Regions from separate parts of the Homo sapiens genome. Here regions 1 and 2 are each reported to be linked to region 3. The links are microRNA targets in miRTarBase. Many come from high-throughput screens and were not tested one by one. Region 3 holds a microRNA gene; each other region holds the end of a gene's coding sequence.

Region 1 (5,231 bases), not on the chromosome of region 3:
GAAGGTGGTCTTCATACCCACTTCCAGACAGCATGGCAGGTGCCTAGAATTCCACCAGCAGAGCTGCAGGAGGAGCCTGCCACCGGGGAGGTGTATTAAAATATAATGTATTAATAGGAAGTCTGAGGTCCAGTAAGGCCACCAGCTCAGGAGACACCTGCCATTGTGAATAGCTTCTCATATACACAGATCCCTAGAGAGAGGACACATCACAGCTGGGGGCCACCTGGGGAAGCACCAGGGTCTGTTATGAGTCAGAGTGGTGGGGAGGGGGGACTGTGGGCCAGAGCCTTTATTATGGTTTCTGTGGAAAGGAAAGGTCAAGGCCAGGTGAACAGGCTTAGGATTGGGAAGTGTGAAGCATTTTTTGGGCTCTGGGGCACAGGGGCTGCCCCTCGCTGTCTGACACCTGGCCTTGGGGTGATTAGTACAGGATAGTGGCTTGGAGTACAAGAGCCCAGTAAGGCAGGTCGCTGGAGGTGTGGACTCCAGACTGGTTGGCTTGTATTTGAAAATCACACACTCAATAGGTGGAGTCCACCCAAGGACAGGTTGTGAGAAGAGAGGCAGGAACTCAAGGCATCGTGAGTCAGGCATATTATCAGGTATGCAGAGGGATTCAAGTCCAGCATACACACGCAGGGCAGATGTTAAGGCATCAAGATGACAGAAGGTAGAAACACAGCTCATGTAGCTGGCGGGGACAGAGGCTCACATTCCGCATGGGCTTTGCAGCTTCAAGCAGTATTGGAACAGAGGAGAGCCCAACAACGTTGGGGAGGAAGACTGCGCGGAATTTAGTGGCAATGGCTGGAACGACGACAAATGTAATCTTGCCAAATTCTGGATCTGCAAAAAGTCCGCAGCCTCCTGCTCCAGGGATGAAGAACAGTTTCTTTCTCCAGCCCCTGCCACCCCAAACCCCCCTCCTGCGTAGCAGAACTTCACCCCCTTTTAAGCTACAGTTCCTTCTCTCCATCCTTCGACCTTCACAAAATCTCTGGGACTGTTCTTTGTCAGATTCTTCCTCCTTTAGAAGGCTGGGTCCCATTCTGTCCTTCTTGTCATGCCTCCAATTTCCCCTGGTGTAGAGCTTGTTTTTCTGGCCCATCCTTGGAGCTTTATGAGTGAGCTGGTGTGGGATGCCTTTGGGGGTGGACTTGTGTTCCAAGAATCCACTCTCTCTTCCTTTTGGAGATTAGGATATTTGGGTTGCCATGTGTAGCTGCTATGTCCCCTGGGGCGTTATCTTATACATGCAAACCTACCATCTGTTCAACTTCCACCTACCACCTCCTGCACCCCTTTGATCGGGGACTTACTGGTTGCAAGAGCTCATTTTGCAGGCTGGAAGCACCAGGGAATTAATTCCCCCAGTCAACCAATGGCACCCAGAGAGGGCATGGAGGCTCCACGCAACCCCTTCCACCCCCACATCTTCCTTTGTCTTATACATGGCTTCCATTTGGCTGTTTCTAAGTTGTATTCTTTATTTTATTATTATTATTACTATTTTTCGAGATGGAGTTTCACTCTTGTCGCTCAGGCTGGAGTGCCATGGCGCGATCTTGGCTCACTGCAACCTCTGCCTCCCGGGTTCAAGTGATTCTCCTGCCTCAGCCTCACGAGTAGCTGGAATTACAGGCAGGCGCCACCAGACCCGGCTAATTTTTTGTATTTTTAGTACAGATGGGGTTTCTCCGTGTTGGTCAGGCTGGTCTTGAACTCCCGACCTCAGATGATCTGCCCGCCTCGGCCTCCCAAAATTGCTGGGATTACAGGTGTGAGCCACCGCGCCTGGCCTATTATTTTTTGTAAGAATAAAACAGGTTTATTGGGATTTGGGACTCTGAACAGTTCTGTCTCTACTACCTGATCTCCTCCTACCACGACTTTGGGATCTAGAGGAGCTTTGGCTCCGGCTGTGACGGCTCCGGCCGTTCTCACTGCGGCTGCACCGGCCCCCGCTGCGGTCACTATTTCTTCCTCTGCTAGGTGAATTGTGCCTCTCCTGGCTCTTTGACATGTGCTAGTGAGATTTCTTCCTTTTCCTTTCGGATTCCCCATTTCTTTTGTAGGAATGGTCTGGACTAGGGTTCTCCTTCCCCGCAGCCTGTAGTATTCATCGTGGTGGCCCACCCTCTCTCTCCCCTTGGAGCTCTTGCCAAAGGAGGAGACAAGCAGAGGTCTCTATTGGATTTCTCAACACCTGAAGAAAGTTGCAGTGTTTTCCTCTTGGACATTGTTGTATTTCAAATAAACCACAAATCATCATTTTCCACCGAGCCACTGGGCAGAATTCACACTGAAGCTGTCGTCCTGCGTACATACCATCGTCCGTTAAACAGAGAAAGAGCTGCTTGGCATTCTTCTTCCGACTGGTACTGAACATATATACTTGCCCCTCAGGTGAGGTTCCAAGTTGCAACTGACCTTGAACTGAATCACTCTCCCCACGTTATTTTTTAATTACTATTTTTTTTTAAAGATGGGGTCTTGCTCTGTCGCCAGGCTGGAGTGCAGTGGCGCGATCTAGGCTCACTGCAACTTCCGCCTCCCGGGTTCAAGCGATTCTCCTGCCTCAGCCTCCCGAGTAGCTGGGACTCCACTAAAAGTACAAAAATTAGCTGGGCGTGCACCACTGCGCCCAGCTAATTCTTGTATTTTTGGTAGAGACGGGGTTTCAACATGTTGACCAGGATGGTCTCGATCTCTTGACCTCGTGATTCGCCCGCCGCGTCCTCCCAAAGTGCTGGGATTACAGGCCTGAGCCACCGCGCCCAGTCTCTCCCCACGTTCTTGAACTCGGGCAGCACATCCTCACAGAAATCTAGGAACTGTTGGTAGGTTTCTTCCTCGCTGTACTCCAGGCTTGCTTCGGAGTCATAGTCATCCCTCCTGCACTGCTCCTTTCCAAACACTGTAAACATGCTTTTAATAAGAAGGGTAGGACTGGATGTTGGGAAATCATGTGAACATCTATCTCCAAATCTGCAAGCTCCTGTTTTACTGTAGAAGGGACAATTAACTCCATCCTTCTCCATGACTCTGAAATCCAAGGGGGGGTTCCGGGTTTTGCCATGTGGCGCCATTTTCCAACTCATTTTCAGCCTGATCCAGCATCTTCTGGACAGCTTCCGGTTTTTGTTTCTTCTGTCGTTTCTGTTCCTCCTCCTCTCTCTCTTTCCTCTGCTGTTCTTCCCATTGTTCCTTTAACTTTCGCTCTTGTTCTTGCCGTTTTCTAGCCACCTCTTCCTTTTCCTTCTTTATTCTGAATTCTTCTTGTGCCTTCTGCTCTCTCAGCAACCACTCCTCATGTAATCTTTGCCTCTCTCTTCCCCATAGCTTTTCTAGTTGTTGTTTTTCAATAAAAGTGTCCTCCTCTTTCTGTGAGAGTCCTGAGTCCCTCAGTGGAGCAAGTTCCTGCTGGCGTTTCTTTCGTTTCTCCTTCTTCAGGGCGGCCCTGTACTTTTTGTGGCTTGGTTTCTCTGGAAATGTCACCTTTTCGGGCGCAGCCATCTTGCCGGCACCGCCCCGCCCCTCTAGTTGTATCCTTTATAATAAACTGGTAAACATTGTAACCGCAGATTCAGCCCAATCTGGTTCAACTTTGTGTAATAAAATGGCGAGTTGTTTTTCAGTTGTCGTGGACCCCCAGGTTGCAAGTTACATACCCTGGGCATGTCCAGATGAACGAAGCGTGCAAATCCACGTGGAACCTAAGTGCTCAGACCGAGGAACAGGGACTGAGTTAAGAAGTGGACACCACGTGGCATGATCCTTGATCCAATCAGATTGAGCCCTGGCGTGATCCAGTCAGATCAAGCCTCCTGAATCCCCTCATTACAAGATCCAATCATATCATGCCTCACTACCCTCTGTATATAAAATCTGCCCCAGCCTCCAACTTGGAGAGACAGATTTGGGCCAGACTCCTGTGTCCTTGCTTGGCTGCCTTGCAATAAATTTTTCTCTCTACAAAACCCCAGTGCTTCAGTGTTTGGTTTTCCACTGTGAGCCAGGGAACTGACCCAATTTAGTTCGGCAACAACATAAGCAAAATGTTTTCCCGAGTTCTCTAAATCATTCTAGGAAATTACTGAACTTGAGATGGACTTATGGGAAGCCACAATTTTTTGCCAGCCTGGCAGAAGTGTGGGTAGACAGTGCAAAGACTGTCTTTGCACCTGGCATCTGAAGCAGGGTCAGTCTTTTGGGACCTAGCCCTTTAATTTGTGGAATGTGGTGCTAACTCCAGGAAGCTAGTGTTAGAATTAGAGAATTTCTTTGGTGTAAATAAGACACCACAAACATCACTTCCTTTCTACTGATGTTGACCCCAAAGATGCACCTTCATAAACAGCTTGCAAGCTAAATTCCGTCTTACTTAAGAGTTGACCTTCAACAGGCAGAGGAACTGTGAGGCTTGTTCTATGTCGTCTCCCAGAGGCTCCCAGGGGGATTGGACCCAATTGCCCTTTTCAGCTCATTGGTGCCTTTGTATTGGGTTCCTTCCTTTCCCTACCTGCTCCTCTTCATTCTTCCCATCCCCTGCTGATGCTTCTTGGAATCTCCTCCCAGATAAGCTACTTATATCCAAATCCTTGTCTCAAGCTCTTTAGTAGGGGAAACCCAAGCCAAGCTTATATTTTGATAACTACCAGGCATGGCTCCTTTTATGTGGGAGACAAGGTCTTGCTCTGTCACCCAGGCTGAAGTGCAGTGGTGCAATCATGGCTCACTGCAGCCTTGACCTCATGGGCTCCAGTGATCCTCCCACCTCAGCCTCCTGAGTAGCTGGGACCACACGTGTGCATCACCATATCTAGCTACTTTTAAAAAATTTTTTGTAGAGATGGGGTCTCACTGTGTTGCCCATGCTGTTCTTGAACTCCCGGGCTCAACTCATCCTCCTGCCTCAGCCTCCCAAAGTGCTGAGTTTACAGGCCTGGGCCGCTGTGGCCTGCCTGGTCATGGCTCTTCTCTATCAAAATGTTCTCAGGTATTCTTGTGCAATTTTTGGATGATTTTTGAGTCTACTCTGGCTTTAAAGGTTTTCATTTACTTGTGGAATAAGTCACGTGTGCACACAGAACCAAAACGTATCAATCTCTACAGTGAAAACTAAAGCTCATTCCGTCCCCGTTTTCCCATCTCAAGAGGTTACTGTCCCCACTTGTAGCTTTGCTATTTATTCCCAACTAAAGAGTATAACCTCTTTATTATATTCC
Region 2 (5,231 bases), not on the chromosome of region 3:
TTTGGACTAAAATTTGTTGTAGAAGACCTAGTGAGACCATCTTACCTGGGGTGAATTCGCATGGAGTCATTTGTACAAAATGTAAAAACACCTCAGCTTTTTTTTTGTTTCCAAACTCAGAAATCTGTTTTTCCTCTCCTTGAGAGAAAAAGTTTATTGTGGCCAATTCACACTTCTCCCAAACCAAAGTTTTAGTCCATCTCTAAGATGGGTCTCAAAGCTCGGAGTGGTGAAGTCAGGATTCTACTCCTGCAGTGTGGCAATCTATCTTCTAATTCCAATCATAATGGTTACAAAGAAGAGCAGGACTGACTGGGCACGGTGGCTTACGCCTGTAATCTCAGCACTTTGAGAGGCTGAGGCGGGTGGATCACCTGAGGTCGGGAGTTCGAAACCAGCCTGGCCAAGATGGTGAAACCCTGTCTCTATTAAAACTAAAAAATTAGGCAGGTGTGGTGGCACATGCCTGTACTACTCGGGAGGCTGAGGCAGGAGAATCGCTTGAACCTGGGGGGGCAGAGGCTGCAGTGAGCCGAGGTCGCACCACTGCACTCCAGCCTGGGCGACAGAGTAAGACTCCATCTCAAGAAGAAAAAAAAAAAACAAAAAAAACAGGACCAAGAAGTTCTTAGTGCTCACAAGGACCCAATGATGGTGACCCTAACACACATTTGACAGAATCTAGGGGTCCTATATGCTTCATGGAAACTACAGTTTACAGTGCCAGAAAGTGTGAGACATGAGGCCTTTTAGGGCTGCGTGGAATACGGTCATAATCGCTAACATTTGTACAGTGCCATGCAGTTTGCGAAGTGCTTTTATATCGACTGCCTCATTGACTCCCCACAACAGATCGTTGGAGTAGGTAAATTTCACAGGTCTAATTTTATAGGTGCAAACAATGGGTATAGAAAGAAGGCTTATGCTTATTTCCCAAAGGTACTAAGAAGTGAAGTAGCAAAGCCAGAGCATGCCAGCCCAGGTTCTTACCACCACAACACACCGCCTTCCAAGGCATGACTTTCCTATGCCATCCCTGGCAGGACAGCATGGGTGGCTTGCTCTTCTTCTCTGTGTTTATTTGCATGCTGTGACACCACTGAGCTGGATAAGTTTAAAAGCAGGCTATGGCTGTTGCCACTGTTTGTTAAACATTGCTACTTGGAGCAGACGGAGAACACAGGCAGCAGCTTGAGTTTTTCTTAGCCATCTTGAACAGTATCAAGCAGGACAAACAGAGGGAAAGCAATTCTTGTTTATCCCAAAGAAGGAAGTGACAGCACATATCGTGTTTTCTGTTGGAATGTCTGTTCTGCCTTGGCTTCGCAACGCTTTATGCTTTTTGCCTGGAAGTTTTAAGTGATGATGCTAAAATGATCTTCCTTGAAGGCCTTTCTAACTCTGATACCAATTTTCACCATTGCACAGCAGCTTTTCTTGTCAGGCATCTCTCCCTCTCTACAGCTGTCCATTAAACTACCCATGTCTTATGTTCCATTTATTTTAAATATTTCTACTTTCTTGTGCATAAAGCCTGAATAGAGGAATTGTAACTATGCAATAATATGTTCCAGTTACCAAGCACCTATTATCTGACAGACACTGAGGTAGGCACTTTATGTATTGCATTTTATCTCAATCTTAGTGCAAACCCTACAAGGTATAGCTCCTTACTCCCACTTTGCAGATGAAGAAACTAGATAAGAATGACTAAGTAGTAAGGGACAGAGCTGAGATTCAAAGGTAGTTCTGTCTAGCTTCAAAGCCAAGGTTTTCTCTCCAGTGCAGAGCACACCACAAATAATGCTAATTGTATTAGTGAGGGAAAGAAGGTATTACCTGAAAATGTTCATTTTAAAGTTAGGTATTTTAATAGTCGGCATCACACTCCCTTTTCCTCAGTCTTTGAAAGCTGGATTGGTGGCCTAAGGTGATGAAATTCAAACCTAATACAAATGCAGCACTCCCATATCATATCCCTTAACAGTCTAAGGAGAATTGCTGAATATAATGGGCCCGTCTGTTCTACTGCTTCATCTACCTGGTCAGCTCTCAAAGGAAAACAAAATCCATACGATCATCGAGGTCTAGAAATTAACTTTTATTTTAAATCTGTCAAGAACTCCTGGCAGTTATTAATTTTATTAAAATGATTACATATGGCAAAACAAAGAATAGAGGTAATTCTATTTCTCTACAACATAAATTATGAGTTAGATTTTCAGCTGCCGGCTCAGCATTGTTCAAGATTCTTTTAAAGGACTGGGGGGATTTTAATATCCAGAAAATGTTAAAGCAGCAAAAGAAAAAATAAATTAAAAAGTCATTGCAATTGGAGATATTACCAAGGATGTGCTTACTATAAAGTCTTCTTGACATGTTAATTATAAAATCTTCCAACCTTTGGTATTAAAAAAAATCATGTGAATAGTTGTCCTATATTGCCTTGTCATCTATAATTTATAACATAGAAGAAATTTGCTGATTTTTTTAAAAAGATGGCAAACATGAATCATGACTCATTCAAATAAAATACAACCAGCATTCATTCATTTAACTGAAATATGTCAAAACAAAAACACTTTTATTAACATATTTAATACCAGAATAACTTATAATAGTATGAAAAAGAGTGAAGTATTTGTCTTTAGTTTTCATTGACATGCTCACATTTTGGCATTTTTGTATTGTTTTGCAAAGATTCCAAAGTTTTTATCAGAGATCTCTAACTATTTAAGGATGCAAACCAAAAGAACTCATACTTCATCTGATCATACAGTCATAACTTATATATTTTGCTTTGCGCTTACTGTTACTGCAAACAGCAATTTAGAAAACAAAGTAAAAATATATATATATACACAAAATATTTTTATATCAAATTATCTTCATTACACTAAATAAACCCAATCCCCAAATGTTATGTTACATGAAAAAGTGTCCTACAATTTAGATCAAGACTGATACTGTCCATCAACTAGAGCAGCCTTTGGTTTTAAAAGCATTTTGCAAAATAAAGAAAAATGTCACCACTGGCTGCACTATTGACCCTCATTCACACTGACAAAAATGCTTTCCAGTTTAAAAAAAAAATAGATTACATACCCAGAAAAAAAAAATCCCATCATAAAAAGTCAAACCCTTTTTACTTCTCTGTAGCACATACCCTCTGTTATATTTGGCATTTCCACTGCTTATTCAAGTTTCAGGTCTTCCCAAGCTGATTGGAATATTATTGTTTAGTTGAGAAAGATAGTCTTCTTTCTTGATATTGATTATTCTCACTCAATGGTAGACTAATTTAGAAACAAAATGTTTTCTTTCAATGCATGATTTCACTTCATTTTTACTTTAATGTCCAACTTGGCAAAATTCAAACTGTTCAATGTTTTGTTTTCCATATGTTTTAAATTTAAAAATCAATTTTATGTATGTATATGTATAGCCGCACAGAGATACATTTCTTTCATTCTGTTGTTCTCGCTGCAATACAAATTGTCCATCAGCAATTGTAATTTGAAACAAACCAAATAAAAGATTTTTAGTCATTCCATACGAACACAGTTTCCATCACAAAAAGACAGTGAGCTCTAATGCAAACAGGATTATGTTTTAAAACTACAGGTTTAGTTTTACACAGGAAAATTTTGAGTTATTTGTATAATAAAGTTTTTTTTTAAACTTCAGCAGAACTTGAGAAACAAATCCAGATTAATTCTAAAGGGCTTTGTGGTGCTTTCCAACAGTGCTTGAAAAAAAGTTTTCCTGGTCACCATGTGTTCAATGAAATTTTAAATTAGCTTGAAGGAATCACTTCTTAAATGTACAACGTTCTGTGGATCGCTGCACCTTGAATTTTGGAAGTTTGTAACATATCAAATATGCAGGCAAGATACATGCATAAAATTCTCACCGTCACTCTGAAAAGCACATTGAACAATTTTCAATAATGTAGACGTTTTTTAAAAGGAAGATTTCATTTGGGCTGAACAGATATCCAAGTTTTAACATATGAATTATTGAATGTATTTCAAGGGCTTTCAGCGATTCTGGTTTCAGTCCTGGAATGATTAGGCCCGTCTGGAATGATGCACACAGGCTAATAAGCATATGGCGTTGGCATTTTGAGGCATAGCTTGTTCAACTATGCCCACGTTGGAGCTTATTGTCGGGAAGCAAGGCACTTACTGTAATGGTAATGCAGATGTTTTATGCATAGTTTGAGTAACATAAAATAAGTTAATATTTTTGATTAAAATGAGTTTTTTATAATTTATATGTCTTTTATAGAAGCAACTAAATGATATATTTGGGATAATTAAAAATAAGAAGAGGTTTGGGAGAGAGTCATTTTCATCCCTGCTTCGGCTCTTAGGATGAGGGTTGATGAAAACACCGGAAAGAACATCCATTGGATCTGAAAAGCAACAAGCTCTTAAAACTGCTGCACCAGCGGCACTTTGACAGTCTTTACTTCTGCTATATGGGACGACTTCTGGATGATGCAGCTGGTAGTTCCCTGCAGTTTGTCCTTTCCCTGTGCAAGATTTGTTAAGGCCATAGCTGCGTTGATCTCCTTCCAATACGTGTCATCCTTGCTTGGTCCTTTTCTGTTAGCTGCGCTGGAGTTAAGCAAAACAGAAAGTAAACGATCAAACTCACTGCAGTTTGCATTGAAAATGCCATCGCTGAAAAGCAGGAACGGCCAATGGGAACATTTTGCTCACCTTTCACCCTTATTGGATCCGTTTTCCAGAGTGTCTGTAAAGAAAAGCAAAAATTCAATTATTTTTATGTTTTTCCTTTCTTTTCTCATCTCAGGAGTTTCATCACTAATGACCAGAAGTAAAAGTTCTTCAGGAAATATGGTTGAAAATTAGTTCGCTTTTAATAAAGATAAAGCAGTTTATATTAAGATGCAAAAAAAATTGCAAAGGGGCAGAAGTAAGATGACAGTGGGTAGTAAAGAATAAAAGGTAGCTCTCATAGATACACAAAAATCTGAAGTTATTTACTCTGAGAAATTGGGCCTTTTGGATCAGGAGACAAACAGCATAAGGAAAAGAGTGCTGACTGTACCTGGGGCCAGGTTCTGGCCTTGCCCTACTACCCACTTGCAGTGTAACCTGGGGGCAGATTATGACCTCCCACAATGTCAGGGATTCAGTTCTCTAACTATAAAATCAGGGAGCTTTGGCTGGGCACAGTGGCTCATATCTGTAATCCCAGCA
Region 3 (5,231 bases):
TTTACGTTTGTAAAATATCCTTTTTCTTCAATTCTTTTAAACACCATGAACATGAAGTTGTATAGTTTTCCTTTCCCCTTTCCAGGATACCATCACCCACATTTAATAGATATCAATAACTTTCGAGTGTTTTTCATTGTTTCCTTAAATAGACTTGATCTTTTACTATTTGATTTGTAGCTTTAAATAATACCCTTTGACATCTAGCAATTACGATGATGTAATCAGAAAACTAACTTTATTTTTTATCTTCTTATCAAAGCCATCTGTTCCGTTTTGTGTTAGATGAATTATTTCCACATTATCAGAGCATATACAATATATAATCTATTCTGTCAACTTTAGCCTTTCTTTCATTTATTTGTTAAATAGCAATTACTCCTTTCCACCTGGAGTTCATCCCCTCATAATGTTGTCAAGGAGGCTTCCGCAAACAGTATTCACAAAGTTTCTTGCATGTTCAAAATGTGTTTTGTTTTTAAACTTCAAGAGCACCTGCTTTGTCTGACTCTTTCTTTCCTAAATTATCATAGATTTTTCTACACTCTCTCTCCTGGGTAGAATGTGGTTGTGGTTGTGACTATTTCACATTATAAAATGATGACTGTATAAATTATTATACAAACTAGAAGGGGTTTTGGAGTGAAATGGGTCAATATCATGGTATAATAATTATACCAGCATCATAGGCATAAAATCTGACTGTTTTGCACCAACTGTAATAAATGGAGTTTTGTCCTGAGACCAGCATGATATGTGTTATTTTACATTATCCCTAGACAAGTTGATAACCACATGGGGAAATGAGACAGGACATGAGAGGAGTCCAAAAATGAGTATGATAATAGAAAAGTCCTGCAAAGAACAGCTTTTACTCAATCCTTCAAAAATAGTCTATTCCTGATTAGAGAAAAAGCGCTTGGAGTATTTAAGCCTCTACACACATCTCTCAATGTTTAAGAGCTGTTAGCAGGAGAACAAAAGTTCGGAGATAATAGTTCTCCAATTCTGTAGACAAATCTGATTCTGGCTACTTGTGCATAGTACATAGTACATGGTGCTAGAGAAGCAGGTACTTACTATGGGGAATAGAATTACATGGGGACTTTATGCAAACAAATGTTTAAGGAATCTGATATGATATGAGTGACACACTAACAGTACACCATAATGCAGGGGAGACTTACTAATATGGTTTGACTGCATCCCCACCCAAATCTCATCTTGAATTGTAGCTCCCATAATTCTCACGTGTTGTGGGAGGGACTCATGGCAGATAATTGAATCATGGAGATGGTTTCTCCTATACTGTTCTCCTGTTAGTGAATAAGTCTCACGAGATCTGAAGATTTATTTCCTCTTTCACTTGTCTGCCAAGACAATGTAGACTTGTCTGTCTACATTCTCTCTTGTCTGCCACCATGTAAGACGTGCCTTTAGCCTTCTCCATGTTCGTGAGTCCTCCCTAGCCACCTGGAACTGTGAGTCCATTAAACCTCTTCTTTTTTATAAAGTACACAGTCTTGGGTATGTCTTTATCAGCAGTATGAAAACTGACTAATACACTTCACTGTCAATCTCTAATTTTCAAATTGTGGCTAGTTACAATTTCTAGGGGAAAAAGTTATACGAAAAGTGTTAGTGGCAGGAAAAAAAGACTCCATCACTTGTTAGTCCAAAGGCCTTAATTGGTATTTTTATCTTACTCCTCTTCCATCTATTCTTGTATACCTCTTGTATATGAGCATGTGCAGACATGTTATAAGTTAAGGTTTCTTTTTTGTCTTTAAATATACTTACATTCCCTCTGGGATAAAATTGTTTAAAAGACTATAATTTTTCTCATTGAATAACCATGGAAATACTTTCAAAAATTTAAGCACATAAAAAATGACATGTTTCTGGATTTTCTATTCTGTTCCATTATCTATACATCCAGTTGTAAACCTCAGCCATACTACCTCTATGACTGGTGCCTAAAAGGAGTATATAGGGAGTCTTGGAAGAAAAAGGTGCTGCTCATCTAATTTTGTTCTTCTTCCTAGAAATCATTTTGTATATAATATGTCCTTTGGATTTCCATATAAAATTTAGAATTAGCTTAACAATTTCTACAAAGAACTTTGCTACAATTGTTTTTTAAATATGCATTGAACATATAGATCAATTTGGGGAGAGATACTATCATAACAACATTAAGCCTTCCAATCTGTAATCACATTATACATTGCAATATATTAGGTTAGTGCAAAAGTAATTGCAGTTTTTGCGTTACTTTCAATCGTAAAAACTGCAATTACTTTCACACCAATCTTAATATTTCGATCTTGTTTTATTTTTCTCAGCAAAGTTTTGAAGATTTCAGTAAACAGGTATGGCATACATTATGCTAAGTTTATTCCTGTGTTCATGTTTTTAACGTTGTTACTAATGGCATGTGTTGTATTAATTTTTATCTTTCTCATATTGCATTGGCAAGAATGTTGATGCAATATTGAATTTCAGTGGTTAGACTGGATATCTCTACTTTGTTCTAGAACTTAGAAGGAAATAATTCGTTTTGTTCATGTAGGGCCAGCTTCATGCACTGTACCTTGTACAGTCATACAAGATTTCATGCTCAGAAGTGCCCTGTTTTTGATTTAACACTCTCTTATTACTGCCTTAAATTTTTAAATAATTTTACCTCTGTGTTTTAAAAGTGCAGTATGATGGGACACTTGAGTACAAGTGTGAGCAGAGATGTCTGTGATATACATGTTCAGTTTCTTACTGTTCTATTCACATACAGCGTTTGTGATGCCACGTGAACGCAGAATTCTTGTGGACCCACAGTGCTTGAAAGTTCAGCAAGACTCTGAGTACAAGATAAGCATTTTATGTCTATAAATGAGTGAGCAAGGTTGACAACTCCAAGAGGCTACACTTTCCATTCAAAACCAGAACTCAATTCAATTGCAAACAAGCAGTGACTTTCCAATAAACACAAACAACCATGGAACCCTATTACATAATTTATTTTCTCTGTTACTTTACTGCATTATTTAACTACCTATGCTGAAAGTGACACAGAAGGAAAGGAAAAGAAAGAAGGAACAATAGTTCTTTTTTTTTGTCCTTGCTTATTACTTATTCCATCTATTTTTGTTGTTGCTTTTTACTTGCTCTTTGTCAGTCTTTTATTATTTTTGTATTTCATTTTAAATACTGTTAATCAACTATAACTATTTTTATGGTTGTTTTGTGTTCACAATATATATCCTTATGTTATTAGTTTATTTTAACATAATACTGTACCATATAAACACACAGTATAAGCAGCGTGTTATGTCCCAAAAACGGTTTCAGAAAATGAAAGGAAACTTCTACATTGGTAATCATTGTTTGATTATGTATACCTTAGCTTCCATCAAATAACAGCTTCCTTGCTTAAAAACTGTAATAGTTCATCTAGTTCAATTTAGTTAGTGATAAATTCCTCTAACTTTTGTTGTTGGGAAAAGTATCAGTTTTACCTTGATTTGTTGTAGATATTTTACTCTATATAAAATTCTAGATTGATGGTTATTTTTCCTTCCTACTTCAAAGATATTTTATTGTCTACTGCCTGGCATAGTTTCCTTTTTTTTCTTTCTTTTTGCTTTCTTTTCTTTTCTCTTCTTTCTTTCTTTTTTTTTTTTTTTGAGACAGAGTCTCAATCTCAGACAGGCTGAAGGGCAGCATCATGAACACAGCTCACTGCTTGACCTCTCACACTCAAGCCATCCTCCCACCTCAGCCTCCTGAGCAACCAAGACTACAGGCGCAAACCACAATGCCTGGCTATATATATAATTTTTTTTTTTTTTTTTTTTTTTTTTAGAGACTGGGACTCACTATATTGGCCAGGCTGGTCGCAAACACCTGGGGTCAAGCATTCCTCCTGTCTTGGCCTCCCAAAGTGCTGGGATTTCAGGCATGAGCCACCATGCCCCGTCCTGGCATACTTTCTAATGAGAAATCTGTGAACATAGTTATCTTTGATTTTCTATACACTATTACTAGATGTTCATCCACGGCATGTGTGGTTTACATTGTGCAACAGATTGAAGCAGATAAAAGCCATTGTCTGTACATCATACTTCTTTCTAATACATGCTCTGCAATTTTCCAGCCAAACCCACCTGTCTGAAATTCTATCTCTATCTCCTCATATCAAGGAGATTGTCATGCTGTGCTTTGGATACCTCTCTGCATCAAGTTCAAGAAAATCCCTTCAGACAGAAAGTCAGAGTAATAACCGAACTTACATCAATTTTCTCTCTTCTCTTAGAGTTCATAGTTCTGTGCTGCTTATGGTAAAATATCTGACAATTTATTAGTTCTACGTTTTATCCTGTTTCCTATTTTTGTAAGGCAAACAGACAAGTTCACATCTGGTTATTCTACCATAGTTAGAGGCTTTAAATTTTTATTTTAATACACTTACTATGGTGGCATTTTAGAGTTCTGTTTTTTTAAATTTTTGTCTTCTCCTCCTCCCTCTTCCACACCCTGCATTTCTGTTTGTCTACTCTTTGACTGATGCATTGTTCCAGCTCAGCTTTGAGCACGTTGGTTCCTACGCTATATGATGCCATCTTCTTCCTGGGAGCGCATTTTATTAGGTGATTTCTAAGTTCTCTTCCCTCCTTGTCTCTTTGTGTCATAGCAATGCAACACTTTGCCTGTTATGGATTGAATTGTGTGCCATCGGCGAAATTCATATGTTGGAGTCATAATCCTCAGTACCTCAGAAACTGACCTTATTTGGAGATAGGGTCTTACAGAGGTAATCAAGTTAAAATGAGATCATAAGTTCTGCCCTGATTTAATATGACTGAAAAGGGGGAAACTTGGAGAAACACACACACACACACACATACACACATCTCCATGTGAAGGAGTACACGGTGAAGATGGCCATCTAAAAGCCCAGGCATAAGGCCTGAAACAGATTCTTCCCTCAGAGCCCTCAGAAGAAATCAACACTGCTGAGACCTGATCTTAGACATCTAACATCCTGAACAGTGAGACAGTGAATTTCTGTTGCTTAAACTATTCAGGTTGTGATACCGTGTTACGATAGTCTTAGGACACTAATACATCCCCCTATAAATTTTAGAAGAGAAGCAGGAAAATTCAAAACTAAGCTACCATCATTTTTCTTCCAGAATATCTTATTATAAAATATATGAAAATTTTCACAACAT

The links. The annotated mature microRNA hsa-miR-548x-5p reads UGCAAAAGUAAUUGCAGUUUUUG and lies in region 3 at 2,247-2,269, shown strand. An mRNA with a match to its seed (bases 2 to 7 or 8) in the 3' UTR can be bound and repressed. Matches are read on the target gene's strand: a 7mer-m8 pairs with bases 2 to 8, a 7mer-A1 pairs with bases 2 to 7 and ends in A, and an 8mer does both.
Region 1: the mRNA of CD209 is a reported target of hsa-miR-548x-5p. Seed matches in the 3' UTR shown: 7mer-A1 at 1,339-1,345.
Region 2: the mRNA of MKX is a reported target of hsa-miR-548x-5p. Seed matches in the 3' UTR shown: 7mer-A1 at 3,008-3,014 and 7mer-m8 at 2,299-2,305.

Annotation. Positions count from the first base shown.
Region 1 is chr19:7,738,745-7,743,975 of GRCh38, reverse strand. It overlaps CD209 (CD209 molecule), which reads left to right. Exons shown (of 7, transcript NM_021155.4): 7 at 736-3,983. The coding sequence ends at 937. It also overlaps the pseudogene LOC100129391. Among named protein-coding and RNA genes, the nearest start is that of CD209, 6.2 kb to the left of the region's middle. RefSeq lists an enhancer at 429-528.
Region 2 is chr10:27,670,794-27,676,024 of GRCh38, forward strand. It overlaps MKX (mohawk homeobox), which reads right to left. Exons shown (of 7, transcript NM_173576.3): 6 at 4,728-4,761; 7 at 2,081-4,622. The coding sequence ends at 4,436. Among named protein-coding and RNA genes, the nearest start is that of MKX-AS1, 71 kb to the right of the region's middle.
Region 3 is chr21:18,683,173-18,688,403 of GRCh38, reverse strand. MIR548X (microRNA 548x) reads left to right here and starts at 2,240; the gene lies at 2,240-2,314. All of the region lies in intron 2 of MIR548XHG (MIR548X host gene), which reads left to right.